Linked DNA regions of Homo sapiens: region 2 is linked to region 1. The links come from fine-mapping of genetic effects on gene expression. A gene starts in region 1. The other region holds a variant in brackets. All regions are shown on one strand. Distances are between the middles of the regions.

Region 1 (15,685 bases):
TCCACCTGGGAAGTAGCTACTACCACTTTCTCACACCTCCAAAGGTTTCTGGCTGAGCCCCCGGGCTCTGCAAGGGTCCGGATGGTTCTGTGGCAGGATGTCAGCCACCAGCCAAAGCAAGTGGGATGAAAAGTTTTTAATGAGAGAAAGGAAGGGCCGTGCTGGCACCTGTGTGGGCTTGGGGTCGGCAGCGGGAAGGAAGGGGGAAGTGGTGCAGATTGGGGCGGAAGAAGACAGAGAGAGAAAAAAACAGACAGAGGCAGAGACAGAGGGAGATAGAGACAGAGGATGTAGATGGGGAGAGAGAGTCAGAGGAGAGGCAAAGATGGGAGTAAGACAGAAAGAGTGACAGAGACAGGGAAAGACGTGAGTTGGGGGGATGGGTGGGAGGGAGAGAGAGGCAGGGAGACAAAAATAGAAACCAAGACAAGTTGGGTACAGAGGCTTACGTCTGTAATCCCAGTACTTTGGGAGGCTGAGGCAGGTGGATTGCTTGAGCCCAGGAGTTCAAGACCAGCCTGAACAACATAGTGAGACCCCATTTCTACAAAAAATAAAAAATGAACCAGGTGTGGTGGTCTGTACCTGTAGTCCCAGCTACTCGAGAGGCTGAGGCAGGAGAATTGCTTGAGCCCAGGAGTTCAAGGCTGCAATGCTGCCCCTGCACTCCAGCTTGGGCAACAGAGCAAGACCATCTCAAAAAAAGAAAGAAAGAAAAGAAGAATAAGAAAATCACCAGACAGAGAAGGAGAGAGATGAGCACTAGCAGCAGCCTGGAACAGGAACCTCAGCTCCTACACCATCAACGGGCACCTACATCCCTGCACCCACATCTTAGCTACACAGCCATCCCGCCCTTCAGTCAAGGCCCCTGGGTATCCAGGGAAGAAGGGGAATGTTGAGAGAGAGGTGACTACTGGCCCAGCCCCCTCCAGCCCTCTCACCTGTTGTGGGGCTCTCCAAATTCCAAGCTTCTGAACACTACCTTCCCAATGTTAATTACATCCAGAACCCCCTTTAATCGTATTCATTTTTGTTCAATGGATCCAATATTTTTAAAACATATTTTCAAGGGAAACTATAATCCACTGGATTAAATTTAAAACATGCCCTAATTAAAAAATTAATGCAAAAATAAAATCGAAGGAAGCAATGTTTTTTTATGCCTTCTGGCTAGAGACGGCCGCCAGCCTAAGGAAGGATCCCCAAAGGAGCCGGTTGTGTCCGATCTTTGTTAAACAAGAGGAGTCTGGGGAGAAGCACTAAAGACGCGTTAGCACCTAATGGAGGCTTTCTCCGGAAAGTCATCAGAGGGTGGGGAGGAAGACTTTCGCTCTGTGATTTAGCACTTCATACTAGGCAACAGCAGCCTCCAGGGCAAAATTCAAGTCCTTTGGCATCGCACTGAGGCTCTGTTGTGACTTAACTCCTGCTGACCTCCAATTTTATTATAACACCACCGATTCCCCCAACCCTCAACATACATACACACACACACACACACACACACACACACACACGCACACACACACACACTATAGTCTTTGTGCCCTGAACTCTACCAAACATACCAGGCCACAGAGTCTCACACCTCCAAACTTTTGCACTTGTGATTCTCTCTCCTTGGAAAACCTTTCCTGACCTCCTCTACAAAGCTAACTCCTACTGGCATCATTTGCACCCCTTCCTCCAGGAAGTCTTCCCTGACTGCCTCCTGTCCCTGTACCAGTATCCCCCAAGGTGCTTAGCATCCTGTGTGGCTTCTGGTGTTGCTTCCCTGCCAACCCCATGGAATGTGCAGGGCTGGGACCCCATCCTAGTCCCCACATCCTCTCAGAACCCAGCATGGTCCCCAAACTTCCAGCACAGGGTGCACAGGTATTTGTTGAGTAAACAGAAGGATGGATTGAGAAAGAAATGAAGGCACCAGAACACTCTGGGACAGAAGGAAATCTAAACTAAACCCTCTCTGTGCTCTGGGAAAAAGTTCTAGGCAGAAGCTCCTGTCCAATAAGAATCAGTCAACTTGACTCAAATTGGCCTCACCTACTCATTGGTCCACAAACTCTGGGCCAATGGCCCAGCCTCTATTCAGTTTTCTCGCCTGTAAAGTGGAGACAGTAGTATTGCCTATGATAGAATTGAGCTAAGAAAAATAAACGTAAAGAGCTAAGTACCCAGAAAGCACCCAAGTCTTAACTGCAATCATTACTATTTTTATCAGCATCTAACACTCACCAAATCAAAGTTTTATAACTTGTAGGGACTCAAAAGATGATTAGAAAAGCAACTGGCAGACTTTCTCTTCAAAGGCCAGCAATGTGGGCTCTCTGGTCTCTATCACAACTACTCCACTCTGCTTTTGTTACACAACAGCAGCCACAGACAAAATGTCAATAAATAAGCATAGCTGTGTTCCGATAAAACTTTATTTACAAATACAGGTAGCGGGCCGGATGTGGCCTATGAGTGGTAATCTGCCAATTTCTGATCCAGACCCTCACTATTCCAAATGTGGTCTTTAGACAAACACCATCAGAGGCCCCTGGAAACTGGTTAGAAACACAGTCTTAGTCTCTGCCCCAAACCTGCTAATCAGAATGTGCACTTTAGCCGGGCGCTGTGGCTCACGCCTGTAATCCCAGCATTTTGGGAGGTGGAGGCAGGCAGATCACTTGAGGTCAGGAGTTTGAGACCAGGCTGGCCAACACAGTGAAATCCCGTCTCCACTAAAAATACAAAAATTAGCCGGGCATGGTGGCAGGTGTCTGTAATCCCAGCTACTTGGGAGGCTGGGGCAGGAGAATCGCTTGAACCCGGGAGGCAGAGGTTGCAGTGAGCCGAGGTTGTACCATTGCACTCCAGCCTGGGCAACAAGATCGAAACTCCATCTAAACAGAAACAAAAACAAAAACAACCAAAAACACAGAATCTGCACTTTAACAAGTTCCCCAAGGGGATCATATGCATGTTAAGATCTGAGAGGCCTGGGTACTCAACTTCATAGGCTGACATCTCACGTCAGAGATGTGGGTTACTTTTTCTTGCCTGATGCCTCCACCAGAACGTAAACTCCAGGACAACTAGGACCTCGTTGCTTCTTAAATCTTGCACCCCAACATCCAGTTGAGGGTTCTCATGTGTCCTTATTCTAGTGGAAGACGTCACTCAGTGGCTATCCGTGCAGTGCTGGGATCAAGGCATGACTTCCACTGACAGCCTCTGAAGTTGGGCAGATGGGCTTTGAGTCCTGGTGCTGAATCTCAGGCCTGTGTGACCTCGGGAAAGTGACTATTTCCAAGCCTTGGCTTCTGGGAAATGGCGTGGTCAATAACAAATATCTCACTGTGGGGAACAACAGTTAGGTAGGGGCCTGTACCAGGTAAGGTGGCACGGCACCCTAGCGCCCAGAGACAGGAACTCCCCACACAGGGAGTATGCAATGGGGACAACCTCCAGTCCCAGCACTCTGGGAGGCTGAGGTGGGAGGATCGCTTGAGCCTGGGAGGCAGAGGTTGCAGTGAGCCGAGATCACACCACTGCACTCTAGCTTGGGCAACAGAGCGAGACTCCATCTCAAAAAGGAAAAAAAAAAAAAAAAAGAACAAAACAAATAAAAGGCCAGGCACAGTGGCTCACACCTGTAATCCCAGTACTTTGGGAGGCTGACACGGGCAGATCACTTGAGGTGAGGAGTTCAAGACCAGCCTGGCCAACAGGGTGAAACCCCGTCTCTACCAAAAAAATACAAAAATTAGCTGGGCATGGTAGTAGGCACCTGTAATCCCAGCTACTCAGGAGGCTGAGGCAGGAGAATCACTTGAACCGAGGAGGCAGGGGTTGCAGTGAGCCAAGATCATACCACTGCACTCCAGCCTGGGCGACAGAAGGAAACTCCATCTCAAAAAAAAAAAAAAAAAAAATGCCTTGAGGGCTTAAAATGGCAGACAGGGTATCAGGAGGCCTCAGACAACCTCCAATATCCTAGAAACACAGAGCTGGAAGGGCTCTTGGAGCGTGTCAAAAAAAAAAAAAAATTGTGCCATGCGCGATGGCTCACACCTGTAATCCCAGCACTTTGGGAGGCCAAGGCAGGCGGAGTTCGAGACCAGCCTGGCCAATATGGTGAAACCCTGTCTCTACTAAAAATACAAAAATTAGCTGGGCGTGGTGGCATGCGACTGTAATCCCAGCTACTTGGGAGGCTGAGGCAGAAGAATAGCTTGAACCCAGGAGACGGAGGTTGCAAGGAACCAAGATCATGCCATTGCACTCCAGCCTGGGCGACAAGAGCGAGACTTCGTCTCAAAAAAAAAAAATTGTTTTTAAAGCAATGGAACTGCTTATTCAGGTGGCACGAGGCAGGCCTAAGGCATCCTCAGATCCCCTGAAAAGCCGCACTTACGTGACAATGGGGAGTAGGGGGAACCACAGTGACTGGGAGAGTCCAGGCCACCTAAGGGGCAGCTTCAGGCCACTCCAGTTTGGCCTAAGCTCCTGGGTTTCCAAGAGAAATGAGAAATCAGAATTTTTCTCTAGAAATGTTTGAATGTTGACTCAATTTTAAAAACACACACGTAGCATGGGAGCTCAACAAAAAACATGCAGCAGGGTGAACTCACCCATTTAACATGTACGGAAACTGGGGCTCAGAGAGGGGAAGCTCCTTGCCCAATGTCACACAGCAATTTGGAGGAAGAGTTGGGACTTGGCTGCTTCCAAGCTCTGCTGTGCATGAGAGTGTGGGAGTGGGAGGAACAGAGCGAGTAGGGAGGAGTGGGTGGGAATCTGGACTTTACAGGCCAAGAGCCCTGCATGTTCTGATCATCAGGGAAGGAGTGTGGACAGAGGGATGGAGAGCGGATCAATATTTATTCAGAATAGTTATAACAACACCTGATGTTTTCTGTGTGTTTTCTATGTGCTAGGCCTTAAGATGGGATATCAAGGAGGAGTAAGAATGAGAATTCAGAGTGTAGAGTCTGGGCTGGGTGTGGTGGCTCACGCCTGTAACCCCAGCACTTGAGAGGCCAAGGTGGGATGATCGCTTGAGCCCAGAAGTTCAAGGTTATAGTGAGCTATGATTGTGCCACAGCACTCCAGCCTAGGCAACAGAGCAAGACCCTGTCTCAAAACAAACAAACAAAAAAACCCAAAACAAAAAAAAAAGAAAGATTCTGGATCCAAATCCTATGTCTCCCACTTCCTAGCTGGGTGACCTTGTGCAAATTACTTCACCTCTCTGAGCCTCAGCCTGTTCACATCATATGGCTGTTGGGGGAATTAAATGAGTTAAACCACATACAGTGCCTAGAACAGTGTCTGGCACCCAGTAAGCCCTGTTGATATTGGCTGTATTTATAATTGTTGCCTTTTGACAGACGGAGGAACTAAGGTTCACAAACGAACATGTTCAAAATTCCAAAGAGCCTGTTTAACCCCAGGGCCTCAGCTTTTGCCTGGTACCAAGATAAGTGCTTTACCACCATTCCCTTCCATCCAGCACCCCTGGAAGATAGGTCCTACTTATACCTGCATTCAACAGATGAGAAAACCAAAGCATAGAGAAACAGCCAACAGCCCCAGAAAGATGTGGAGCACCTGGATTCTAATACAGGCCAGTGCCCCCTAGCTCCCTATCACACTGCCTGCTTTCTGGGCTGCCTGCCTGCTTTCTGGCTGCAGAAGCCCCAGTCAAAAGTCTTACTGATACAAAGTCACTCGGCAGACGGGCTGGCTGCCCGCCATCTGAGCACATAGGATAAGAAGTTTCTCCCTGGGCCATCAGCCCCAGACGTTCCCTAGGGCCTGTGGGCACTGCCTCTGAGGTCCTTCCCTGCAATTTCTGGGGGCTGGCCAAGATCTCAAGCAGCTCTGAATGAATCATTCCCACAAATCCTCCTCTGGCTGCAGTAAAGGGTGGGGGAGACCTGAGAAGTGACGGGAGGGGACAGTCATCCCAGATCTCTGGAGGGGCCCCAGACCGGGTACATGCAGGTCCTCAGAGGGCACGGGGACTTGCAAGCAATCGGAATAGGCAGCAAGTCGGGGAGCAGGAGCTGCTGCTACCCAGAGAAGCTTCCCTGGTGCCACGTGGGGCATCAAAGCCACACAAGCCACATGCATTTTTCCAAGAAAGTACATTCTGGTCACCAACCCCAGGCTGTGAAGCTACATCTGATCTGCCACTCTTACTACAAATACACCCACAAAGTCACATCAATAATACATTTCAGGCCAGGCGTGGTGGCTCACACCTGTAATCCTAGCACTTTGAGAGGCCGAGGCGGGCGGATCACAAGGTCAGGAGATCGAGACCATCCTGGCTAACACGGGGAAACCCTGTCTCCACTAAAAATACAAAAAAATTAGTCAGGCATATGCCTGTAGTTCCAGCTACTCGGGAGGCTGAGGCAGGAGAATGGCGTGAACCCGGGAGGTAGAGCTTGGAGTGAGCCGAGATCACGCCACTGCACTCCAGCCTGGACAACACAGCGAAACTCCGTCTCAAAAATAATAATAATAATAATCATAATAATACATTTCAACAGCCTAACCGATCCCAAGGCACCACCACATCTTAGTTCTGAATGGTCTATGCCCATTCCTCAGTAGGGTACACTGACACCCAGAGAGCGGCAGTTCCTTGCCTAGGGAGCCTTCCCACCCCGTCTCCATGTCCCTAGGCTGCTTTCTTTCTTTCTTTTTTTAATATTTAATTGATTTTTATGTACTGACCTAATACCCTACAATCTCGCCCTGTTGCCCAGGCTGGAGTGCAGTGGTGCAATCTCAGCTCTCTGCAACCTCTACTCAAGCGATCCTTCCACCTCAGCCTCCCGGCTATCTGGGAATACAGGCGCGCACCACCACGCCTGGCTAATTTTTGTATTTTTTGTAGAGATGGAGTTTCACTATGTTATTCAGGCTGGTCTCAAACTCCTAGGTTCAACCAATCCATCCACCTCAGCCTCCAAAAGTGCTGGGATTACAAGCATGAGCCATGCACCCGGCCTAGGCTGCTTTCTTAATGCACAGGAACTCAGGATTTTAAAAGGACAAGGAAAGGCAAGTATGCAAAAAAGAATAAAGTCACGAGGTGCCAGATACAGCGGCTGGGAGGCGTGGTCTTAACACCATTCCCAAACAGCAGCTGCCCAGATGAACCAAGTTGTCAGGAAACTGGAACACGCAGATAAGTGCTGGTCTAAGTTCCTGAACCAGCAGAGTACAGGTTCAAGCTGGGGTGAACTACCTACCTTCTCAAGGAACTCTTCCTCTGTGAAAACGCTGGGTTCTGACCTGAGTTCTTCCGGTGCAGCCTCTTGCTGAAGCAAAGAGTGTGAAGGAAGAAACACAGGGTCCTAGGGGTGGGGAAGGTGCTGAGAGGAGGGGGAAGATGTCTGTGTGTGCAGAATGTTCACAGATGAAGCGTCTGTAACTCAGGACTGCTCATCTCAGGCCTGGGGGGTGGCCCCTCTTGAAATAAGCAGCAACTCACATAGGACACTCCGGTGGCCACCCAGAGAAGTCACCTTCAGAGTAGCGTGGGGGGTTCCAGATAGGGTGTGGGCAGGACCAGACTTAATTTTGGGGTCAAGGGACAAGTCTTCCCCTTCAGTTATGGTCTAGGAGAGCCATGGAGGGTCTCCCTGGCCTCCACAAAGCCTCAGCTGGCAAGGGGGCTCCAGGCTGGCCCGGGATGGGAAGATCCGAGCAGCTTCCACCTTCCTTTCACCCCCTCCTAATACTGTGTGCCAGCTCCTGGGGTGGGCTCTGTAAGCCACTGGGTCCTACACTGCCTCTCCTTGCTTCGGTATTTTCACAGAGTCTTGCTCTGTCACTTAGACCGGAGTGCAGTGGTGTGATTGATCTTGGCTTACTGCAACCTCTGCCTCCTGGGTTCAAGCGATTCCCCTGCCTCAGCCTCCCAAGTAGCTGGGGTTACAGGCACGCACCACCACACCTGGCTAATTTTTGTATTTTTAGTAGAGACGGGGTTTCACCATATTGGATAGGCTGGTCTCGAACTCCTGACCTCAGGTGACCTGCCCACCTTAGCTCCCAAAGTGCTGGGATTACAGGTGTGAGCCTCCGTGCCCGGCCTGAAAATAGTTTACAACTAACACATCAAAGCCAGTGATTTCAAGGGTTATGACTGCTTCAGAGAACACTAAATGTATTTAAGATTATTGGAACCCTCATACACTGGTGGTAGGAATATAAAATGGTACAGCTGTTCTGGAAAAATAGTCTGGCAGGTCCTCAACAGGTTAAACCTGGGTGCAGTGGCTCACACCTATAATCCCAGCACTTTGGGAGCCTGAGGTAGGAGGATCGCTTGAGACCAGGAGTTCAAGACCAGCCTGGGCAACATAGTGGGACCCCTATCTCTACAAAATAAATAAATAATAAAATAAATTAAAAAAATATTTAAAGGTGAAACCTAAAGTTACCTTACGACCCAATCATTCCACTCCTAGAAATATACCTGAGAGAACTGAAAATGTATGTCCAAAGACCTGTACATGAATGTTCATAGCAGTATTATTCATAATAGTCAAAAGTTAGAAACAACCCAAACATCCATCAGCTGACAAATGGATAGAATGTGGTATATCCACATAATAGAATATTATGCAGCCATAAAAAGGAACGAAGTACTTAAAAAAAAAAAAAGGAATGAAGTACTGATACAGGCTGCAAGGGGCTGAACCTTAGAAACATTCTCTGAAGTGAAAAGCATCAGATACCAAAGGCCACATAGTATATGACTGCATTTATATGAAATGTCCAGCACAGGCAAATTCATAGAGAATTTGAGAGTCAGTAAGTGGTTGCCAAGGGATAGGGGAAGAAAGGATTGGGGAGTGACCATGAAACAGCCTTTCTTTTGGGCATGATAAAAATGTTCTAAAATTAGACAGTGGTGATGACTATGCAACTCTGAACATCCTAAAAATTACGGAAACATATACTTTAAAAGGGTGAATTGTACGGCATGTGAACTGTATCTCAACAAAGCTGTTATAAAAAAAGTTTGCATGAGATTTTTAAAAATCAGGTGATACAAAGATGTATATTAAGTAAACAACAGTACAATTGGGGTTCAGTGGGGTGGGGGGATTCAGAAATGACCCAACAGTTCCTTTAGGACAATGAAATAAACCCAGCTTTACAGTTATGGAAACTGAGACTAGATCGGAAGGAAAATGCGTCGCCCGGGCCACATCACTACTAAATCCGGTGTGTCACAGATCTGTTCAAATCCAGAAGCCTACCCTCGCCAGCAGACCACCCTGCTGAGATGAAAGGGTTATCACATGGAGGCTAGGGAGAGGTGTCCACCCACAGCCCAGTCTGGCAGACAGACATGCAAGGGAATGTCTGTTGGGAAGTGAGAAAAAGGGCTGGCTAACTCTGTGGGGTTCAAAACAGGAAGCACCCAACAATACCAGGAGAATGCCAGGGAAGGCTTCCCGGAGGAGGTGCTGCTTGAGGGGGCTTCTGTAGGATAAGTAGGAGTTCAACAGCCCGCCTCCTCAACATCCCCAAGGACATTAAGTCAGGAGGCCTGTGAGTGAGTTTCAGCTCTGCCACATCCTAGCTGTGAATCCTAGGGTCACGGGCAGGTGACCTCTCCAAGCCTCAGTCTCCCCATCTGTAAAAGGGGAAGGGGGCAAGAGGTTAGGCACGGTTCTTTCTAATGACTCTGCTGAGGTGGATGGTTCCTTCCCTAGGGAACGGGCCTTTGAGTGGGAATGCCAGACCTCGACCTCTGTCCCATCTAACAACGACTCTGCCAGGTCAGGCGTGCTCAGCCTCTGAGCCCATGCTCCCAGTCCCCTGCTACCAGTCCCAGTCCCGGCTTTCCGGGCACCTCCCATCCAGCTCACACCGAGAAGCGGAGTTTACGGAGGGAGGTTGGGGGTTGGGGTGGGATCCTCGGGTCAAATTCCTCTCCACTCCTCACCAGTGACCTCCAAGTTCACTAGGGCTCCCCAACCCAGTGCTCCCAGCGCCCACCTCCCCAGCCGACGATTTCCGCCCCCAACGCCTCCACTTCTGACGCTCCTCGCAACTCCACGGCTGCTGCAAGTTAACTTCCACGCGCCCTGGCGCCCGCCTGGGGGTCCCCGCGCGCCTGGGCGAGGTTGGGGACTCCGGAGGCGGGGACGCGCCGCCCTCCCCCCCAGTCCCCCCGCCAACAGACGCTGAGCGTCTCCCAGGCGCTGGGTCCGAAGCGGGAAGCGTGGTAACGGGGGCCCGGTGGATGCCGCACCCCGCGGAAAGCGCTCGGGACGCCGAGCGGGTGCGGATCCCAGAACCGCGCGCCCGCGCCGCCTGCCTGCCTCCCAGATCCCAGCTCCCAGCCCCGGAGCCCGAGCAGTCGCGCCGGGCCCGGAGGCAGCCGCCAGGACGGAGGGCTGCCAGGCGCCCGAGGCCGACCCGCACGGCCCCCAGCCCGCGCCCCCGGTTGCAACCCGAGGCCACCCCCTGCCGCCCCAGGGCCACCTACCGTGGCGAGACGCGGCGAGGCAGCCCCACGCACCCAGCGACTCCCGGCTCTCCAGCCGCCCCAGCCGGGGAAGGGGGAGGTGCCCGCGCGGGGGCGGGGCCGCGGCGACGTGACGTACGGGGGCGGGCCCGATACGCGGCCCCGCCCCGCCCCGCCCCATCCCCTCCACTGCGCCTCGGGACCGCGAGGTGAGCAGAGGCTGGTCGGGAAGTTTCCCGGAGGCTCGCCCCGGGAACCCCGCCCCGCCGCCCTGGAAGCCCCTGTCTGCTCGCTGGCTTACCCCTAGGACGGGCAGCTCACCACTTCTCCCGGTCAGTTCTGTTTAAGAGAAGTTCCTTTCTGCCTGTAAGCAATGAAGTGGAATGATCACCAAAAAGTGGTGTAAGAAAAGAAAAGTAGACCCGCAGCGGGGTGTATTCGTGCTACTGTTTGTGTAAAACACAGAAAAAAGAAAGGGGTGGTCTGATGTATAGTCATACACACCAGTGGTTTTGGAGGGAGTTTTTGTGGATATACCACATTCTCTCCATTTATCAGGGATTTTGCCCTGACATCCCTCCACCACCACGACATTTGGCAATCTCTGAAGACATTTTTGGTTGTCATAACTGGGGAAGTGGAGAGGCGATACTGGCATCTAGTGAGTAGAGGCCTGGAATGCTGCTAAACATTCTGCGGTGCATAGGACACCCTTTCCACCCCCAGCCCTGCCACTACCCCCCCAAAAAAAACCCTGCAAAAAATGCCGAATAGCGTAAAGGTTGTGAAGCCCTGATATACACAAATGAAACAAAACTCCTGACTGATAAATCTTAGCACAGTCTAAGTTCTATAACCTTTCAGTGCTTCTGCTTCTTCATGTGTAAAATTGGAAAAATAATAGAGCTATCTATGCATCGTATGCTTGTGCATTGAATACCTGAAGAAAAGGTAGGGTAGGCATGCAGGCTTACTTTTCATTGTGAACTTTGGTTCTTTGTTCTCTTTTAACTTTCTATTTGCCATATGTATATATTATCTGTTTAAAATAAATTTCTGGGTCAGGTGCATGGCTCACACCTGTGATTCTAGCACTTTGGGAGGCGAGGCGGGCGGATCACTTGAGGCTAGGAGTTCAAGACCAGCCTGGCCAAAATGGTGAAACCTCGTTTCTAATAAAAATACGAAAATGACTTTGGGAGGCCAAGGTGGGTGGATCACATGAGGTCAGGAGTTCGAGACCAGCCAGGCCAACATGGCGAAACCCTGTCTCTACTAAAAATACAAAAATTAGCCGGGTGTGGTGGTACATGCCTGTAGTCCCAGCTACTCAGGAGGCTGAGACAGGAGAATCGCTTGAACCTGGGAGGCAAGGGTTGCAGTGAGCTGAGATTGCACTGCACTCCAGCCTGGGCAACAAGTGAGACTCTGTCTCAAAAAAAAAAAAAAAAATGCAATCCCAGCACTTTGGGAGGCCGATGCGGGTGGATCACCAGGTCAGGAATCCAAGACCAGCCTGACCAATATGGTGAAACCCTGTTTCTACTAAAAATACAAAAATTAGCTGGGCATGGTGGTGCATGCCTGTAGTCCCAGCTACTCAGGAGGCTGAGGCAGAAGAATCGCTTGAACCCAGGAGGTGGAGGTTGCAGTGAGCCAAGATCGCACCACTGCACTCCCACCTGGGCGACAGAGTGAGACTCCGTCTCAAAAAAAAAAAAAAAAAATGAGCAGGGCATGGTGCTGCTCACCTGTAATTCCCCCTACTTGGGAGGCTGAGGCACGAGAATTGCTTGAACCCAGGAGGCAGAGGTTACAGTGAGTGTAGATCGCACCACTGCACTCCATCCTGGGTGAGTACACACACACACACACACACACACACACACACACACACAGAAACTAGGGCACACAGATATTAAGTAATTTGCCCATGGCCAGCCACATGTTCATTCATTGGTCATTCATTAATTCATTCATGTGTCCAATAAATAGTTAGTGCTTGCCTTATGGAAAATGCTGGGACTGATAAAGCTGCCTCCATGGAGCCAGCCATTACTGGTCTGGAAACAATACAACAACATTACATAGTGTTTATTGCGTGCATGTTAGAGACTTCATATGACTGATTTGATAGACACATAGATTAAACACCAGCAGGGTGTTTTATAATGTCCTTTTGTGGATGAAAAAAATGGAGTTCAGAGGAAGAGGTGTGAATGGGGGCATTTGTTTAATAACATTCTAGCAATGGCATTTCCTGAGCTCTCTATGCTAGGCACAGATTCAGCAGCTAACAGGGGGACAAAGGTCCAAGTTGGGGAAGCTAGATCCTTCAACAAGCCTTCACAGTAAAGTGAGCACCTGTAACTGATGAGGCAGGAGCAGCAGAGATTAACCTGGTCCAGGGAGGGAGGGCCAGGCGTGTGTATACATGCCAGAGGCATGGGTGGGGATCCTTGGAAGAGTGCACTGGTCACAGAATCTAGCAGGTGCAAAGGCCTAGCAGGAAGGAAGCGAGCCTGGGGCCTTGCATGAAGTGCAGAGTGGACAGGATGTGGTGGAGGTGAGAGAAGAGATCAGAGGTGTCTGCAGGGCTGGATGCTGCAGAGCTTTGTGGGCTGTGGGAAGGAGTCGGGGCTTTTCTCTTGCAGTGATGGAGAGACAGGGAAGGTGTTCAACAGGGGAAGGGCATGGGGAGCCTGACTTTCTGCAAAGATCCCTCTGGTGCTGTGTGAAGAAGAAACAGGCAGAAACTGGTTTGGAGGGTGTTGAAATAATTCAGGAACCCAGAGAGGGGATGTGGGCATGGAGGGGGTGTTTTGGTTCCGGAGAGGTTTGGAAGACAGAATTGGCAGATCTCAGTTGAGAGGCTAAGGAGGAGGATCAGAATGATCGTCTTGTTGTCTAGGTTGGGACTTCTCTCAGTACCCCTAGCTCAGTGAACCTTTCCAGGTCTCAATCTGTCTGTCACCTCCTTGAGGAAGGCTAATTGCCCCTCAGGACATCGTGGTGGACCAGACACCAGACTGTGCAGCCCAGGAATTTGATGTGACTTTGAAGGCAGACAAAATAATTCATTCCTCCTGTCTGCATCTTCAGCCGGGAACACCTAGAGCAGATACCTCTTCTGTCTTCCTCCCCAACCTATCTTCCCAGCATCTAGGCAAAACCCAGTACTTAAGAGGTTTTATCAAAAGCAGGAAGAATATTTATCAAAAGCAGGAAGAATAGATGTAGCATAATACACATTGATCCAAAAATTCTTTCCAGCTCTGACATTCAAGAGGATGAGGTTGATGTTATGTCAATAATTACACTTTAGGCCAGGCTCAATGGCTCACTCCTGTAATTCCAGCACTGTGGGAGGCTGAAGAGGGAGGATAGCTTGAACCCAGGAGATTGAGACCAGCCTGGGCAACATGGTGAGACCTTGTCTCTACTTTTTTTTTTTAATTAAAATTTTTTTAAAAACCATTTTATTTATTTTTATTTTATTTATTTATTTCTTTGAGACAGAGTCTCACTCTGTTGCCCAGGCTGGAGTACAGTGGTGTGATCTCGGCTCACTGCAACCTCCGCCTCCTGGGTCCAAGCAGTCCTCCTGCTTCAGCCTATTGAGTATCTGGGATTACAAGCATGCGCCAATATGCCTGGCTAATTTTTGTATTTGGAGTAGAGATGGGATTTCTTCATGTTGGCCAGGCTCGTCTCCAACTCCTGACCTCAAGTGATCCACCTGTCTTGGACTCCCAAAGTGCTGGGATTACAAGTGTGAGCCACCATGCCCAACCACAGAAAACACTTTATTCAGGTGCTTGCTATGTGCTAAACACCTTATAATTATTATATTCAAGCTGATCATTTACCCTCTCCAAGCTTTTGGTGTTTTATTATCATTACTCCCATTTTACAGATGTGGAAACAGAGGCTCCAGCAGGTAATTTGATTTGGCCAAGGATAATAGCTGGTAATTGTCAGAGCTGGAATGCAAACTCAGGTCTCTCTCACCCTTTCTAGTACACTGATAGAAGGCAGTGGCTCGGCAGTGGGCAGGAAGTAAAAGTAAGTGGGCAGGTTTTCTTCTCCTGCTGGAAGGGTGTAGTATTATTGTTCCTAGCTGGGGATCCAGGCTTCACAAAGCATTCGTTGATCCTAAGTATCTGACCCAGGCTATTGGCTGTCGTGGCAGTTTGGCTCTAAGAAGGCTCATCTCTTTAGAACCTCTGCAGGGCACCCTGGAACCATGTCTTTTCCCCAGAGCCCAGTTGCTGTGTATTTATCAGCATCTCATGCTGGCACAAAAGCATTCAATGCCTCTGGGTGATCCTCCTGCCTCCACCCCACATATACACACTGCCGGCGTTGGGCTTATGCTCCAATGTCTAAAAGATTACGGGTTGCCTCTTGTCGATGAGAATGAGAGCCGCTCTCTCATAATCAAGATGCTTTGCCTTTCCAAAGGCCTGAGACTCAAAGATTCACAAGCTGGGATCTATCTAGCTTTGAAACAATATGAAGTCCCCAGTTTCCTCAGGCATTGTATTTTAAAGCCAGTGCTTAGGGACACTCCTGCTTGAACCCGGGAGGTGGAGGTTGTGGTGGGCTGAGATTGCGCCACTGCACTCCAGCCTGGGCGATAGAGTGAGACTCTAGCTAAAACAAAAAACAAAAAACAAAAACCAAAACAAACAAACAAAAAGCCAGCATTTAGAGCCAAACCCATGCAGTCAAAATTGCCTTGGAGAAGCCCCCGAAAAGGCTGAAGGCAACATAGCCCCTTGGAAGTCCAGCTTCACTGGTTTCCGTCAATATTAAACTTGGACTCATCATGATTTCTGGGGTTGAGCACCTGATGAAATGAAACCTTAGTTTTAGTTTGAAGGCAAAAGTGTGGCTTATCTTTAAGCTCTGAAATTCTGCTCCAGGTGGTGAGATGCTCATGTTTTGAGAGATATGTTGAAACTAGGACCCATGGAAGGAACACCAGGTTTATGGTTCCTAAGTCACACTCACTCTCAGCCTTACTACATGTTATTTTCTTTAACTTGCTTCTTTTAGTCTCTATTCTTTATTTTTTGCTTATAATTTTATATGTCCTCCTTTGTTATTACAAGGCATTTTGTTTATTCATAAATTCATTAGCAAACAATACATTAAATATAAAATGACTTTAATTGTTATTTT
Region 2 (15,685 bases), 60 kb before region 1:
CTGCAGCCTTGTCCTGCTGGGCTTAAGTGGTCCTCCCACCTCAGCCACCCAAGTAGCTGGGACTACAGGTGCTTGCCACCATGCCCAGCTAATATATTTTTTTGAGACGGAGTCTCACTCTGTCGCCCAGGCCGGAGAGCAGTGGCACCATCTCGGCTCACTGCAACCTTTGCCTCTCAGGCTCAAGTGATTCTCCTGCCTCAGCCTCCTGAATAGCTGGGATACAGGCGTGAGCCACCACGCCCGGCTAATTTTTTTGTTTTGTTTTCTTTTGAGACAGGGTCTCACTCTGTCACCCAGATTGGAGTGCAATGCCTCAATCTTGGCTCACCACCACAACCTCTGCCTCCCAGGCTCAAGCGATTCTCCTGTCTCAGCCTCCTGAGTAGCTGGGATTACAGGCGTGCGCCACTACCACCCAGCTAATTTTTTTGTATTTTTAGTAGAGAGGAGATTTCACCATGTTGGCCAGGCTGGTCCTGAACTCCTGACCTCAAGATGATCCACCCGCCTTGGTCTCCCAAAGTGCTGCGATTACAGGTGTGAGCCACCACACCCAGCTTCCCGCTAATTTTTTTTTTTTTTTTGTATTTTTAGTAGAGACGGGTTTTTACCATGTTGGCCAGGCTGATCTCAAACTCCTGACCTCAGGTGATCCGCCCGCCTCAGCCTCCCAAAGTGCTGGGATTATAGGCATGAGCCACCACACCCAGCTCGAGCTAATTTTTTAAACTTTTTGTAGAGACAAGGTCTCATTATTTTGCCCAGGCTGGTCTCGAACTCCTGGACTCTTGTGACATTTGTTCAGGGGGAAGCCAACACCATGTATGAAGTTTAACCACCCTGAGATGGCCACGTCCTGAAGAAGCCCAGTCTAGCCATGCGGAGAGACTACATGCATAAGAGGTACCCCACTAAGCCTCTAGATGCTCCAACCATCCCAGCCGAGGTACCAGACAAATGAATGAAGAAATCTTCAGCTGCCATCTGACTAGAGAACCACCAGCTCACTCTAGTTAATTCCCAAAACTGAGCGGTTTTTTTTTTTTTTTTTTTTTCAGACAGGGTTTCACTCTGTCCCCCGGGCTGGACTGCAGTGGTGTAATCACAGCTCACTGCAACCTCCACTTCCAAGGCTCAAGTGATTCTACCTCAGCCTCCCCAGTAGCTGGGACTACAGGCACAAGCCACCGTGCCTTTTTTTTTTTTTCTTTTTTTTCTAGAGACCAGGGTTTCACCATGTTGCGCAGGCTGGTCTTGAATTTCTGGGCTCAAGTGATCCTCCTGCCTTGGCCTCCCAACTTACTGGGATTACAGGCCACTGGGATTACAGTTCTAGCCACTGCACCTGGCTAGAACTGAGAGATTTAACAAGTTGTGGCCAGGCGCGGTGGCTCACGCATGTAATGCCAGCACTTTGGGAGGCCAAGGCAGGTGAATCACCTGAGGTCAGGAGTTCGAGACCAGCCTGGCCAACATGATGAAACCCCATCTTTACTAAAAATACAAAAATTAGCCAGGTGTGGTGGCGGGTGCCTGTAATCCCAGCTACTCTGGAGGCTGAGGCAGGAGAATTGCTTGAACCCAGGAGGCGGAGGTTGCAGTGAGCCAAGATCACACCATTGCACTCCAGCCTGGGCGACAAGAGTGAAACGCTCTCAAAAAAACATACAAACAAACAAAAAAACAAGTTGTTTTAAGTCACTCAGTTTGGGGCTGCTTGGTTGGGCCGCAAGAGATGAGTGGAACAATGAATGAGACTGGATGTCCTCTGCTACCCAATGACTGGCAACCATGAGCTTCCTGGGTCTGTAATTCCATCAGCTGTCCATCCCTTACCCTGGAAGGGTAGAGGATTTATTCTTTGGGTAGACATAGTTTAAGAGTTTTTTTGTTTTTGTTTTTTGTTTTCAATGAAAAATTGCCAAGCCCTTTGGAGGCCCTGATGGCTCAACCAGGTTGGTGGCTGCTAACGAGAGTGAAGATCTATATTCAGTCCATCTGGCACATGTGCAGAAGACCCTTCTCCAACCCCAGATCATGACTACAAATGGCTATCAGTTGGACAAACATACATCCTGATGAGAAGATATGGTTGGTTCATCACAACCTTTTATTTCACAATATTAATAGTAATCATTATAGCTACCATGTATTAAGCCTTCACCATGGGGCTGTTAAGTCTTCATTGCTTAGCTTTACTAAACTAGATAATGTGTTTGCTTATCTCATGGATTTCTCTTAACCATCCCCTGAGATCCCCCTATAGTTCTTATCCCTTTACCCCCATTTTACAGAAGAGGAAAACTGAGGCTCAGAGAAGGGGAGTCACTTGGCCACAGTCGCACAGTTGGAAAGTGGTAGAGCCAGGATGAGACGCTAATTCTGACTCCAAAGCTAGTTATATATAATAATAGCACCCAAGTAATGTATAGATTACCATGTTTTCACATATGGCAAATTAAGGAATCAGAATGAATGATGCATGCTGCCCAAGCTGGACAGAGGATGGGCCAGGGCACAAGTGACGGCTGACCCACTGATCCATGGAACCCCCAAGAAAGGCTCTAGAACAAAGCTCTGATTTCACAGTGAGATTAAAATTCTGCCCAAATCAGGGTACATGGGTGGAATTAATCAAAAAAGTTAGTATGTATGCCTTTCACCCCAGCAATTCTACTTCTCATTTTGCAGAGACTCACTCATACAGTGGCATCAAGAGGTTATATGTGCAGGAGAACGTCCACTGCAGCTTTGCCAGTAGCGATGAAAACTGCTAACAGCCTAAGGGCCTAGCCAAAGTGGAATGCTCAAAAAAGATGGTTTGCTCTAGAACAGGCAGCTGGTAAAAGGAGTGGTGTTAGATCAGCACATGTTCACATCAGAAATGCTCCAGGAGCCAGGTGCGGTGGCTCACGCCTGTAAACCCAACTCTTTGAGAGGCTGAGGAAGGATTGCTTGAGCCCAGGAGTTTGAGACCAGCCTGGGCAACATAGTGATTCCCCTCTTTACAAAAAATAAAAAGTTAGGTAGGTGTCATGGTCCAGCTACTCAGGAGGCTGAGGTGAAAGGACTGCTTGAGCCCAGGAGTTAGAGGTTGCAGTGAGCTGTGTTTGCAGGAGTTAGAGGTTGCAGTGAGCTGTGTTTGCAGGAGTTAGAGGTTGCAGTGAGCTGTGTTTGCAGGAGTTAGAGGTTGCAGTGAGCTGTGTTTGCAGGAGTTAGAGGTTGCAGTGAGCTGTGTTTGTGCCACTGCACTGCAGCCTGAGCAACCAAGCGGGACTCTGTCTCCAAAACAAACAAACAAACAATCCTCCAGAGCAATCTGTTAAATTACATTTTGGAATAACCTATTCAAAATGGTTTTTTCCATACGTCTTTAAGATGATAATATTTATATGTTCAAAAATTTAAAGTCTGGAAGACTATGTACAAACAGAAAATGGTAGCATTACCTTTAGGAGCTATTGAGAGGAAGTACAAATAGAGCCACTTGCCTTCTTACTATCAATTCTGATTGTCCCATGTTTTATAATATATTCATGTAGTACTCTAAACAAAATCTTTTCAGATCAAATCAGGGGAGATGAAATGAGAGTGGATTCTGAGCCTAGTTTTTTTCAGGGAACAAGACCCAGTGCTACCACTTAGGGGCTAGAAACAGAAATTGTATTTATTTTATTTTGTTTTATTTATTTTATTTTTGAGATGGAGTCTCACTCTGTTGCCCAGGCTGGAGTGTACTAGCATGATCTTGGTTCACTGCAACCTCTGCCTCCTGGGTTCAAGCAATTCTCCTGCCTCAGCCTCCCAAGTAGCTGCAACTACAGGCATGCGCCACGACGCCCAGCTAATTTTTGTATTTTTAGTAGATGGGGTTTCGCCACGTTGGCCAGGCTGGTCTGGAACTCCTGACCTCAGCTTATCTGCCCACCTCAGCCTCCCAAAGTGCTGGGATTACAAGCATGAGCCACCGGGCCCGGCCTCTTTATTTTCTTTCAGTGTTTTCCCAGGAAGTTCTCTGAACATCCAGGGTCTTCACAGATGGACTTCTCATAAAAGGTAACTCCTGGAACCAGACATAAATTTTTTTTTTGGGGTGTGTGGTGATGGGATACATAGCTGTCGCCAGATTCTCAAAGGGACAGTGTCACACTTAACAGAGCAAGGAGAGTAATCGGTGATTGGTGAATGATCATTTATCAGAGACTGTGTGTCAAACATTTAAAAAATAAAAAGTAACTGCTGAAGAAATGAACAAAAAGGGTCACACCTTCAAAAAAGCCTAATTTCCATTCCAGAGCAATCTCAAGACAAGGAAAAATAAGAGCTGCTTCACACTGAGGGCTTATCTGGTATCAAGGACCACCGCCAATGTCATCCATTAGCCATCCCCAATAAACCCATGAAGTTCAGCCTGAACAGCATAGAAAGACCTCGTCTCTACAGAAAAAAAAAAATTTAAAAAGTAGCCAGGTGTGGTGGCACATGCCCAGCTACTCAGGAGGCTAAGATGGGAGGATCACCTGACCCTAGGAGACCGAGGCTGCAGTGAGCTATGATCACGCCACTGTACTCTAGCCTGAGTGACAGAGCGAGATTCTGTCTAAACACACACATACACACATACACACCATGAAGTTTTAACTTCCCCATTTTACAGATGAAGAGACAAAGTCTCAAGCCATACAGCCAGTAGGTCAGCCTGACTCCAAAAACCCATGCCCCAAGCCACAATAAGTCACTGCCTTCCAAAAGCCTCATATTATCATGAGATATAAGGCAAGGAGGTATGGGTAAAACACCTTAACCCTTAAAGATACAAACTTATTGTAGGCCCAGTTGGTCCCTCAGCATTTGGGGACTGTGCTATAAGGGTTAACTCAGCAGGCTTGAAGTGTCCAAACCCAGCACATCTCAAAGAAAAAACTGGCCTTAATGGGCTCCTGGGAGATAACCTCTAAGTCCTTGGAATATCCTCCCAAGTAGGGGTGTCTTTGTATACCTCAGGCCTTGGGCCATACCAGGCCAGATAGTTTGTGCTAATAATGTGATTTATGGTGGGGACCTTGGGCCATGCTGTATCATTTTGACCTCTGGAGCAGCTGGTGATTAAGTAACTAAAGTCGGTCATGTGATTGCCCTATGTGACTGACATGCAATAAAAACCTAGACCCCAAGGCTAGGGTGAGCTTTCTGGCTGGTAATATTTAGTACGTGTTGTCACATATCATTGCTGGGAAAATTAAGTGTGTCTGTAAGACTCTACCAGGAGATGACAACTGGAAGCTTGAGGCCGGTCTCTCCCGGACTCTGCCCTATGCACCTTTTTCTTTTGTTGATTTTATTTTGAGATGGAGTCTTGCTCTGTCACCCAGGCTGGAGTATAATGGCACGATCTCCGCTCACTGCAACCTCCGCCTCCCAGGTTCAAGCCTCCTGAGTAGCTGGGATTACAGGTGCACACCACCACGCCCAGGTAATTTTTGTATTTTTAGTAGAGACGGGGTTTCACCATGTTGGCCAGGCTGGTCTCGAACTCCTGACCTCAGGCGATCTGCCTGCCTTGGCCTCCCAAAGTGCTGGGATTACAGGCGTGAGCCACTCCACCCGGCCTCTTTTGCTGATTTTAATGTTTATCCTTTTGCTGTAATAAACCATAACCATAAGGATAATAGCTCTTCTGAATTCTGAGTTCTTCTAGCCAATCATCGATCCTGGGGGTGGCCCTGGGGACCCTGACACAGGAATTCAGCTGTGCCTTACATGCACCTATATTCTCCAGCTTTTTGCTCATCACAAATCTACCTGACAAAATCCAGTATGGAAAGAAAAAAAAAACCCTATTCATTCAGTAAAGT[A/G]AGGCACAAACAAATGAGCCTCTGTTCACTTTATTCAAAGAGTATTTTTTTCCTCTGTGAAACTAGGTAGAACTGAGGAGGAATCAAAGAAAGCCTCATATATTAAACTCTTAAATAGATTCTTTGAATTCAAAGTAAGGGTCAATAGGAGAGGCACAGGTTGTGGGCCTTGTCCCAGCAAACAAAGCCACCAAGGCAGTCCTGCAAATTAAGGAGGATGGCAAATCTGTCTCTTAAAAAAAAGTTCTTGAGGGGAAAAATATAAAATACCTAAGTTTCAAAAGCCGGACTACTTCCATACCCTTCATTCTCTACCCTGGAGTGTCCAGAGATAGAGAGTTTCAAGGTACGTTTTCAATGATTCAGCTTTTGCAAACATATGCAAATACATTCCTCATCAGCAGTCCTGTTTTGGCGATTAATAGCAAGCAATATGCTTGGATTAGAGGTCCGATTTCCACTTAAATGCATTTTCTTCTCTTCTTGGCAATGAAGTCATTTGCGGAGATCTGAAAGTGGGGAAGACTGTGTTAGGCTCAGAGTAACAATTCTGAAATAGATCATTTATATTTATACATGTGATTGCAGAACATACTGTCTTCATCCATTCGCATAAGCATGTAATGTTTTAAGAATGCATCCCAGATGGCCAGAGAGAGTTTAAATTTAAAAACGTTTCCTGGGTTCTTCCCCACATCTCATCTTGCATCCACTTGACCTCAAATATACACTTTTCTTATGGACACAGAGCAAATGACAGTGATTATGTGATAAATACTGATGAATTCTTGGAGGCAAGAGAAGGACTCATGTTTGTTCAAGGCCAACTCTGTACCCAGGATTCAGCTAAAGCACCTCTATATGGTATCTCATTTAAACAGTAAAACAAGTAACAAATCTGCTTTTGTCAATGAGAAGGTCCAGGATTCTACTAATGATCTGCAGAAAGGCAGCGAGGGAACAGTTAGTGAGGAACAGGGAGGAAAGCTGTTTTTCATGAGAGGGTTCTTTTCTTTGGAATAGAACTATGGGATCTTGGGTAGGTGTGGTGGCTCATGCCTGTAATCCCAGCACTTTGGGAGGCTGAGGTGGGCAGATCACTTGAGGCCAGGAGTTTGAGACCAGCCTGGCCAACATGGTGAAACCCCGTCTCTACTAAAAATACAAAAATTAGCTGGGTGTGGTAGCGCACACTTGTAACCCCAGCTACTTGGAAGGCTGAGGCACGAGAGTCACTTGAACCCCAGAAGGTGGAGATTGCTGTGAGCTGAGATCGTGCCACTGCACTCCAGCCTGGGGAACAGGGTGAGACTCTGTCTCAAAAACAAAAACTCTGGGATCTTAGTGCAACTCAAGATGGGAACCCTAATAATGACAGAGTCCTTGCAGGTTGGAGCAAAGTAAATTGAAAGAAAAACTAAAACATATGCTGATTGTTTAAAAATAGATACAGAGACTAAAAATAAGAGTCCAAGCTGGAAGGTGTTTCCATGTAAAATAACCTCTCTTGAGGTTTCCTTTAACCTGATCATAGAGGCTGGGGGACAGAAGGAAGTGAGCTCACTCATGCAGCCTTAACTCCAGTGCCCAAGTCCACAGCGAGGGCCCAGCACTTCACGGTTTCCAAGCACTCCCACCTGGGCCAGCTCACGCCATCTCATGGCCAACCTCAGAGGTGGGCAATGATGAATCCCCATTCTCCAGATGAAGAAAACAGGGGCTGAAGGGAGTTAAACCTGGAGATCTTAAATCTTTGAATTACCAAGTTCAAAAAAATCCCTTTCCCCACCCCTTAGTAGAATATGGATGGATAAATGTGCACTTAAAATCATTCACTAAAAGCAAACCTGGGAGGAATTCTGTCCCTTGGTGGCTGTGTAGCCTTGGGCAAGTCAAAGCCCTTCCTTCTCTGTGCTTTGGTTTTCTCTTCTGTAAAATGGAATGATCATGTCATCCGCCTCCCAAGGATGCTGAGGGTTAAATGAGTAACACAGGACCAGTACCTGGCCCAACGGCCATGGGGGTTATTCTTAGAACAGAACGACTTGTGACTGTTATTAGAACATTAATTGCTCTGGCCCAACGCTGATGCTGTTTTTAGAAGCCAGACTGGCAGACAGCATTCTGTGCAAAAATGGTTCCAGAATCTCCCCCTCCCCCATCATAGTGGTGCTTCCTGCCCTGTCCCCAGTGTCAGACAAACCTTTTTCTGGTTGGTTCAGCGTTAATCCCTCTCCCTGTCCTTGATCCAGAGCTAGAAAACTAAGCCTTGATTCTATAAATAGCACCCCCAGTCTGTCACCATGGAAACCTCTGATGGGGCTGGGTCAGCCCACCCTAGTGGACATGTCTACCCCAGGGAGGCTCTGGAAGGACAGAAAAGTGGCTTTTCAGAAAAGTGGCTCCGGGGCCACCCAGAAGCAGCGGGAACCCCCAGTGAAGTCCACAGGCTTACCTGGAAATCACGAGCTTCCTAAGTGGGAGGAGGTGCTGTTCTGGTTCACCTGGAGAAAGACAATACACAGAAGAAGGGGTCACGGCCAGGTGAGGGATGCCTTGCTGTATTGAGGGTCACCCCTCAGCATCACTGAGTCATGCACATGCTTATTCACGTAGTATTTACTGTACATCTACTATGTGCCAGGTGCTGGGATAGCGTGGTGAGCGGGACAGACCCAAACCTAGGATCACGGAACTTACGTTCGAGTTGAAGAAAAAGCCTACTGAACACGCACAGATGCAAGAAAATGTCAAACTTGGGCAATATGACAGGCTGCTATGAGTGATCAGTATCTGTGCTACTTCAAAAACGGTGGCCAGGAAAGGACTCTACAAGATGGCATTTCAGCTGTGGTATAATAATAAATATTTGTTCATTGTCCCCAGTTCCTGGCACATAGCTCCCCAAACTCTTGGAATCTCTGAAGGAATAAGGGTATCTTGGCCGGGCGCCATGGCTCATGGCTGTAATCCCAGCGCTTTGGGAGGCCGAGGAGGGTGGATCACCTGAGGTCAGGAGTTTGAGACCAGCCTGGCCAACATGGCAAAACTCTGTCTCTACTAAAATACAAAAATTAGCCGGGTGTGGTGGCGGGCACCTGTAATCCTAGCTACTCAGGAGGCTGAGGCAGGAGAATCGCTTGAACCCGGGAGGCAGAGGTTGCAGTGAGCCAAGATCATGCCACTGCACTCCAGCCTGGGTGACAGAGGGAGACTAGGTATCAAAAAAACAAAAACAAAAACAAAAAAAAAACAAAACGTATCTTTTGCATGCTAATGACATGACTAATGGCTGGGGGTCCCTAGATAGCTTCAGGATTAGGGGAAGGGGTCTCAGAAAGACCAAGGCATGATTAGAGGGTTGGAACTTTTTTTGTTGTTTGAGACGGAGTCTCACTGTGTTGCCCAGGCTGGATGGAGTGCGGTGGTGCAATCTTGGTTCACTGCAACCTCCGCGTCCTGAGCTCAAGCAATTCTCCTGCCTCAGCCTTCCAAGTAGCTGGGACTACAGACGTGTGCCACCACGAATGGCTAATATTTTTTGTATTTTTAGTAGAGACAGGGTTTCACCATGTTGGCCCGGCTGGTTTTGAACTGCTGACCTCAAGTGATCTGCCTGCCTCAGCCTCCCAAAGTGCTAGGATTACAGGCATGAGCCACCACACCCAGCCAGAAGGTTGGAACTTTAAGCCCCACCTGCCTTCTCCCCTCCCTGACCTCCTGGGAGGGGAGAGGGGAGAGGGTCTAGGGGCTAGGAGCTGGAGATTGGGCAATCACCCATGACCCATGATTTAATCAGTCATGCCTCTATGATGAAATCTCTAAATGACAGAATTTGGAAAGCTTCCTGGTTGGTAAACACATTGAGAGGCTGGGAGGGTGTCATGCCGGGAAAGGGCATGGATGTTCTGTGACCCATCCCCCATACCTCACCCTACGCTTCTTGCATTTGACTGTACCTGAGTTGTATTCTTTTTTATGAGACAGGGTCTCACTCTGCCACCCAGGCCAGAGTGCAGTGGCACGAACATGTGCCACATGTGCCATACCCAGCTAAGGCTTTCTCTTTTTTGTAGGGAGATGGGGTCTCACTGTGTTGGCCTTGAATTTAAAAAAAAAAAATTAATGCGATCTGAGAGCTAGGGACCATGGCTTTTGAGCATTTCCTGGTTGTTTGGGGAGAGGTCCCACTCCCTTTGTGGGAATCAGAGATCTATCTTTTGCTGACGTCAAGAAAGTAGCCAGAATTAGTGAGCACTAATTTAGTATTTGTTTTAACCAAAAAGATGATGTAGGCAGAACAACACAGTGGGGATGAGGAGAATTATCCACAAACTGAAACTTCTCATTTTTGCACGTTGCCTTCGTTTTTGTTGTTGTTGTTGCTGCTGTTGTTTTTAAGAGACAGGGGCTCCAGCGATCCTCCCACCTCAGCCTCCTGAGAACCTGGGACTGCAGGCATGCCACTGCACCCAACTCCTGCGTGTTGCCTTTTTTTGTCCACCTGAATATGCATTTTTACATTAGTTGCAATTGTATAGTATGAGCTGCTTTGTTTTGCTTTCTTACTATTTTTTCATCATTTGGGTTTCACTAGCACCATTTTGGATGGCTACAGATATTCTGTGGAGTGCATGTACCACCGTTTACTGACTGCTTACCTAAGAATGGTTCCAATTTTTGCAGTATTTTAAATGACATCACATCCTGATTCTGCCTCTCTTCTGTTGGGTACTGAAGCTCTACTGAATCATTCCCTTAGAATTCACTTCTAAAAAATGGAATCATGCTTGAACCCGGGAGGTGGAGGTTGCAGTGGGCTGAGATGGCGCCACTGCACTCCAGCCTGGGTGACACAGTGAAACCCCATCTCAAAAAAAAAAAGGAATCAGCAGGAGCAGGTGGAAGGGTTCAGATCTTTTGAAGACTCTTGAACAACAAGGCTAAAAGTGTTTTACAAAAGGGTTGGGGTCAGGAGCAGTGGCTCACGCCTGTAATCCCAGCATTTTGGGAGGCCGAGGTGGGTGGATCACTTGAGGTCAGGAGTTCGAGACCAGCCTGGCCAACATGGCGAAACCCCTTTCTACTAAAAATACAAAAATTAGCCAGGCGTGGTGGCCGGTGCCTGTAATCCCAGCTACTTGAGAGGCTGAGGCAGGAGAATTGCTTGAACCTGGGAGGCAGAAGCCGCAGTGAGCCGAGATCACCGCATTGCACTCCAGCCTGGGCAACAAGAGGAAAACTCCATCTCAAAAACAAAAACAAAAACAAAAACAAAAGGGTTGGGCCAGTTTATACTTCCTGCCGTGTATGACATATGCAAGATGTCTAGCTGACCTGGGACTGGTTTTTGTTGCTTTTAGGAACAAAATATGAAGGAATGGCATACCCCCACGCTCAGGAGGGCTGCCCTGCAGATAAGTTTTGTCAAGCCTCTATTTCCAACCCTCATCTCCCTACTGTCCTCCACTGTGCACATAATGTCATTCTGGATGTTGTAAAAACTGGAAATGGTCTTGAAGAAGCTGTTTAGTAAATGGTAGCACATGCATTCCACAGAACACTACGTAGCCATCCAAAATGGTGCCGGTGAAACTCAAAAGATAGGAAAATATTAAGAAAGCAAAACAAGGCAGTTTGAACATGAAAATTGCAATGAACATTCCTGTAAATCACATTGGGGTAGAAACAAAGAAAAATATAATTGCAACGAATGCAAAAGTGCATACGCACTCCAGAGGTTTCGGCCACACTCCCCACTTTCAGGCGTTTACAGTTCCCTCTGCCGGGAAGCCTTTTCTATCCAGATCTTTGTGTGGCAGACCTAGTTTTAATCCTTCAGATATTGGCTTATGGGTGCTTTCCAATATCAGTGACCAATTCTCTGATTATCTGGATACCAACTGGGTGTTCAACAATTCAGTTCAGTTCTGACACCAGCTCCCAGACTTACTTAGCATCAGCTGCCACAGATTAAGGGCCCAGTTCCACGACTGCCCCACTTTAGATGCCAGCTGCAATGGGGTGCGCAGGCTATCCACACTTCTTCCCAGCCAACTTCAAATCTGGAGGTTCCCACAACCCCCACTCTGGTTTGATAATTCACTAGAACAGCTCACAAGACACTAGGGAAAACACTTTACTAACTGCTACCTGTTTATTATAAATAATACAACTCAAGCTTGGACAACATGCCAAAACCCTGTCTCTACAAAAAACACAAAAATTAGCCGGGCATGATGGTGTGTGTCTGTAGTCTCAGCTTCTTGAGGGGCTGAGGTGAGAGGATTGCTTGAGCCCAGGAGATTGAGGCTGCAGTGAGCCATGATCACACCACTGCACTCCAGTCTCAACAAGAAAGAAAGCCCAAGAAAAAGTCCCCACGAAGTCCCTCCAACTGCATTCAAGCCGGAAGACGAAGTGAGAGGCTGCTTCCTGGCAGAAGGGCCACTGAGATGTGGCCCCAGCTGGATCAGTGCTTAGAGACCCTCTGGTCCAGCACGCATCCCCACAGCCCTTTATTTTTTATTTTTATTTTTTGAGATGGAGTCTCGCTCTGTCGCTCGGGCTACAGTGCAACGGCGTGATCTCAGCTCACTGCGACCTCTGCCTCCCAGGGTCAAGCGATTCTCCTGCCTCAGCCTCCCAAGTAGCTGGGATTACAGGTGTGTGCCACTACGCCCGGATAATTTTTGTATTTTTAGTAGAGACGGGGTTTCACCGTTTTGGTCAGGCTGGTCTTGAACTCCTGACCTCGTGATCTGCCTGCCTTGGCCTCCCAAAGTGCTGGGATTACAGGCAGCCAGCTCACATCCCCCTTTTTATAATGGGAAAACCATCAACCAGAGTGGAGAAGTGACACATCTAAGGGCATACAGCCAGATGGTGGTATAGCTGAGAAAGACAGAATTCGGAATTCCCCTTGGGGTTTCTAACCTGAAAATATCCTTTCAGATTGGCTGGTGTTTTATAGTCCCCTTTCAAGACCTAAGGAAGAGAAAAAGAAATATCACTATTATGAAAATGGCCAAAAAATAAAATTTAGTCATTCCCAACACATCCAGTCATCCACCCATCCACCTCGCCACCCACCCATCCCTCCATCCAACAAACATTGCTTAAGCTCCTCTTCTTCTAGGCATTATTCTAAGCATTGTGTCTGGTTGACATGATGTTAACCAGATAATGGAAATTCCTGTTCCCCTGGAGCTACCATTCTAGAGGGGGCACCAGATAACATACAAGAAAAATAAACACAGATAAACAAGGACATAGCAAACCATGGGAACTGTTGTGAAAAAAGTACAGTAAAGAGGTGGGATTAGGAGTAACCAGGGGGCTTCTTTTGAGTGGGTGGTCAAGAGGGGACTCTTGGGCCAGGCGCAGTGACTCATGCCTGTAATCTCAGCACTTCTGGAGGCCAAGGCAGGAGGATCACTTGAGTCCAGCAGTTTGAGATCAGCCTGGGAAACACACTGAAACCCCATTTCTAAAAAATTAAAAATTAGCTGGGCATGGTGGCATGCACTTATCGTCCCAGCTGCTCTGGAGCTACTCCAGCCTCAGCTGGAGGATTGGTTGAGCCCGGGAGGTTGAGGCTGCAGTGAAGTATGATCACATCACTCCACTCTAGCCTGAGTGACAGAGCGAGACCCTGTCTCTAAGAAAGTGAATAAATAAAAATAAAAAGGGCCTCTTGAAATAGATAACCTTTGAGCTGAGACCCAAACGACAAGGAAAAATAGGTAGGCTAAGCTCAGAAGAAAAAGCACTCCAGGCAGAGGCAACAGAGCAAAGGCCCTGAAGTTAGAACCACAACATTTCAGGCCTTTCCGCTAGTAGTCACATTTTAAAATAAAATGAAACAAGGGAGATTAATTCTAACAATATCTTTTATTTAACCTGATATAGCTAATTTTTTTTTTTTTCTATTGAGACATGGTCTCACTCCCATAGCCCAAGCTGGAGTGCAGTGGTGCGATCACGGCTCACTGCAGCCTCCACTTCCCAGCCTCAGGTGATTCTCCCACCTCAGCCTTCTGAGTAGCTGGGACTATAGGCACGTGCCACCATGCCTGGCTAATATTCAATATTTTTAGTAGAGATGAGGTTTCACCATGTTACCCAGGCTGGTCTCAAACTCCTAGGCTAAGCAGTCTGCCTGCCTTGGCCTCCAAAAGTGCTAGGATTATAGACATGAGCCATCATGTCCAGCCTATGTAAAATATTAACATTTCAATATGTAATTTATATAAAAGTGACTAATAAGAAACGTTACATACTTTTTTGTCCTAAGCCTTCAAAATCTAGTGTGTATTTTACACCTAACAGGACCTCTCACTTTGGACTAGCCTCCTGTTACAGAATCAGGGGCCACACATGGCTAGTGGCTACCGTATGGGACACTGCAGGCAGAGACGATTTCATCAGCATAGATGTCCTTTTAGCCACTGTGTTTACTGAGCCCCAGGATCCATTATTGGAACACACAGGGTCCACAGCACTCACAGAAGCACACAGGCATGCATGCAAACTCACAGGGCTTAGTGAGAGGACTTTTCTTTGCAGTAACAGCCAAGCTATGGCAAAAACTAAACCAGGGATCTAGCACTTGCCAAGACTTGTTGACCGCCCCAGGGAAGAAATCTCTTTGGATGAAAATGAGAGACAGCTTCCATTTTAAATAAACAAACACAAAAAGCTCCAAAGAGTTGATGTTAACCACCAGTGCTCATGAAAATTATTTGTGTTTTATAAAATACATAAAGTCAGGCTTTACTCCAGGAACGTCCGACCCATAGCCTGGGGCAAGCCAGGGGCAGCGAGCCACCTTTTAAGGAGACCCCAGAGGAGCCACTGCTGGGCCCTTGGCTGAGAACAGTGAAGTAAGCAACATCCAGCCCACTACTGCAGTGTCCCCAGCCGGCCCTCGCCTCTGCTTCTGAGAAGCACCTGGGGCTGGATTGTGAGATCACTACCATCTTTTTAATCCAGTTAATTAATTTTTTATTTTGATAATACATGTACAACCCACAGGCAGATAAAAGTATGTAAAACACATAAGTAGGGTTTAAAGATTACTATTATTAAAGAATAATAAAATAAAAATTAATAATATTTATAATAAAAATAACAAACCACATCTGGGTTGCAGCCATTCACCTGTCAATGTCGGCTGGTATGTACGTTGAATCTCTGAGTATTTCCATAAATAGATGTCTGCAAAATCAACTAATGTCAAGAGGAAGAGGAACTCACGAGACCCACAGACAAAGCTTACACTTCAATTACAAGGGCACAGCCCCCAAAGCTCAGCGTTAGTAAATTCTCTTTGTTAAAGAGAGATCAGTGAGTGCTAGAGAGGTGGTAATGACTTTTTAGCACCAAATGGAAACTTTCTTCTTGAGCCAACTGAAGAGTTACGGAACTAAGAGACGATTAACTTTTTTCCGTTGTGATTCAATACGATAACTGTTTATTTCCTAAAATCAGCACACGCTCAGAAATGCTGAGCTTAGCTTAAATTAAAGACTCTGGGTCTTAATGAAGTAAGGGCTGTGAAAGCTCTTCCTCAGGCCTGGGTCCCATTTTCAAATATTTGCCTATAAGGAAGTTAGAACACAGCACTTAAAGTAAACTAGAAGCTGTAATGGAAACGTATAAATAAGGCCATCAACTTGTTAACTGTTCTTTTACCCAGTGGGTGTTAGCCTACTTTAACACTTCAAAAGCATTTTGTCAGTCACTGGAGGCTCACACCTGTAATCTCAGCACTTTGGGAAGAGTGAAGCAGGGGCATCCCTTACGGCCAGGAGTTCTAGACCAGC

Evidence for each region.
Region 2: its variant is fine-mapped to the expression of TPST2 in whole blood (TOPMed, PIP above 0.99). The same link has a PIP of 0.9 or more in T cells, blood mononuclear cells, lung, monocytes and nasal epithelium.

What each region holds. Positions count from the first base shown.
Region 1 is chr22:26,579,534-26,595,218 of GRCh38, forward strand. It overlaps TPST2 (tyrosylprotein sulfotransferase 2), which reads right to left and starts at 10,599. Exons shown (of 7, transcript NM_003595.5): 1 at 10,520-10,599. It also overlaps a transcript of CRYBA4 not described here. RefSeq lists enhancers at 1-49, 241-1,158, 9,797-10,297, 10,814-10,953, 13,250-13,399 and 1 more and silencers at 190-269, 1,131-1,425, 10,144-10,323, 10,334-10,703.
Region 2 is chr22:26,519,901-26,535,585 of GRCh38, forward strand. It overlaps TPST2 (tyrosylprotein sulfotransferase 2), which reads right to left. Exons shown (of 7, transcript NM_003595.5): 5 at 12,795-12,845; 6 at 8,314-8,362; 7 at 2,096-6,367. The coding sequence ends at 8,321. Among named protein-coding and RNA genes, the nearest start is that of TFIP11-DT, 15 kb to the left of the region's middle. The variant A/G (reference allele first, on the strand shown) is at 5,859.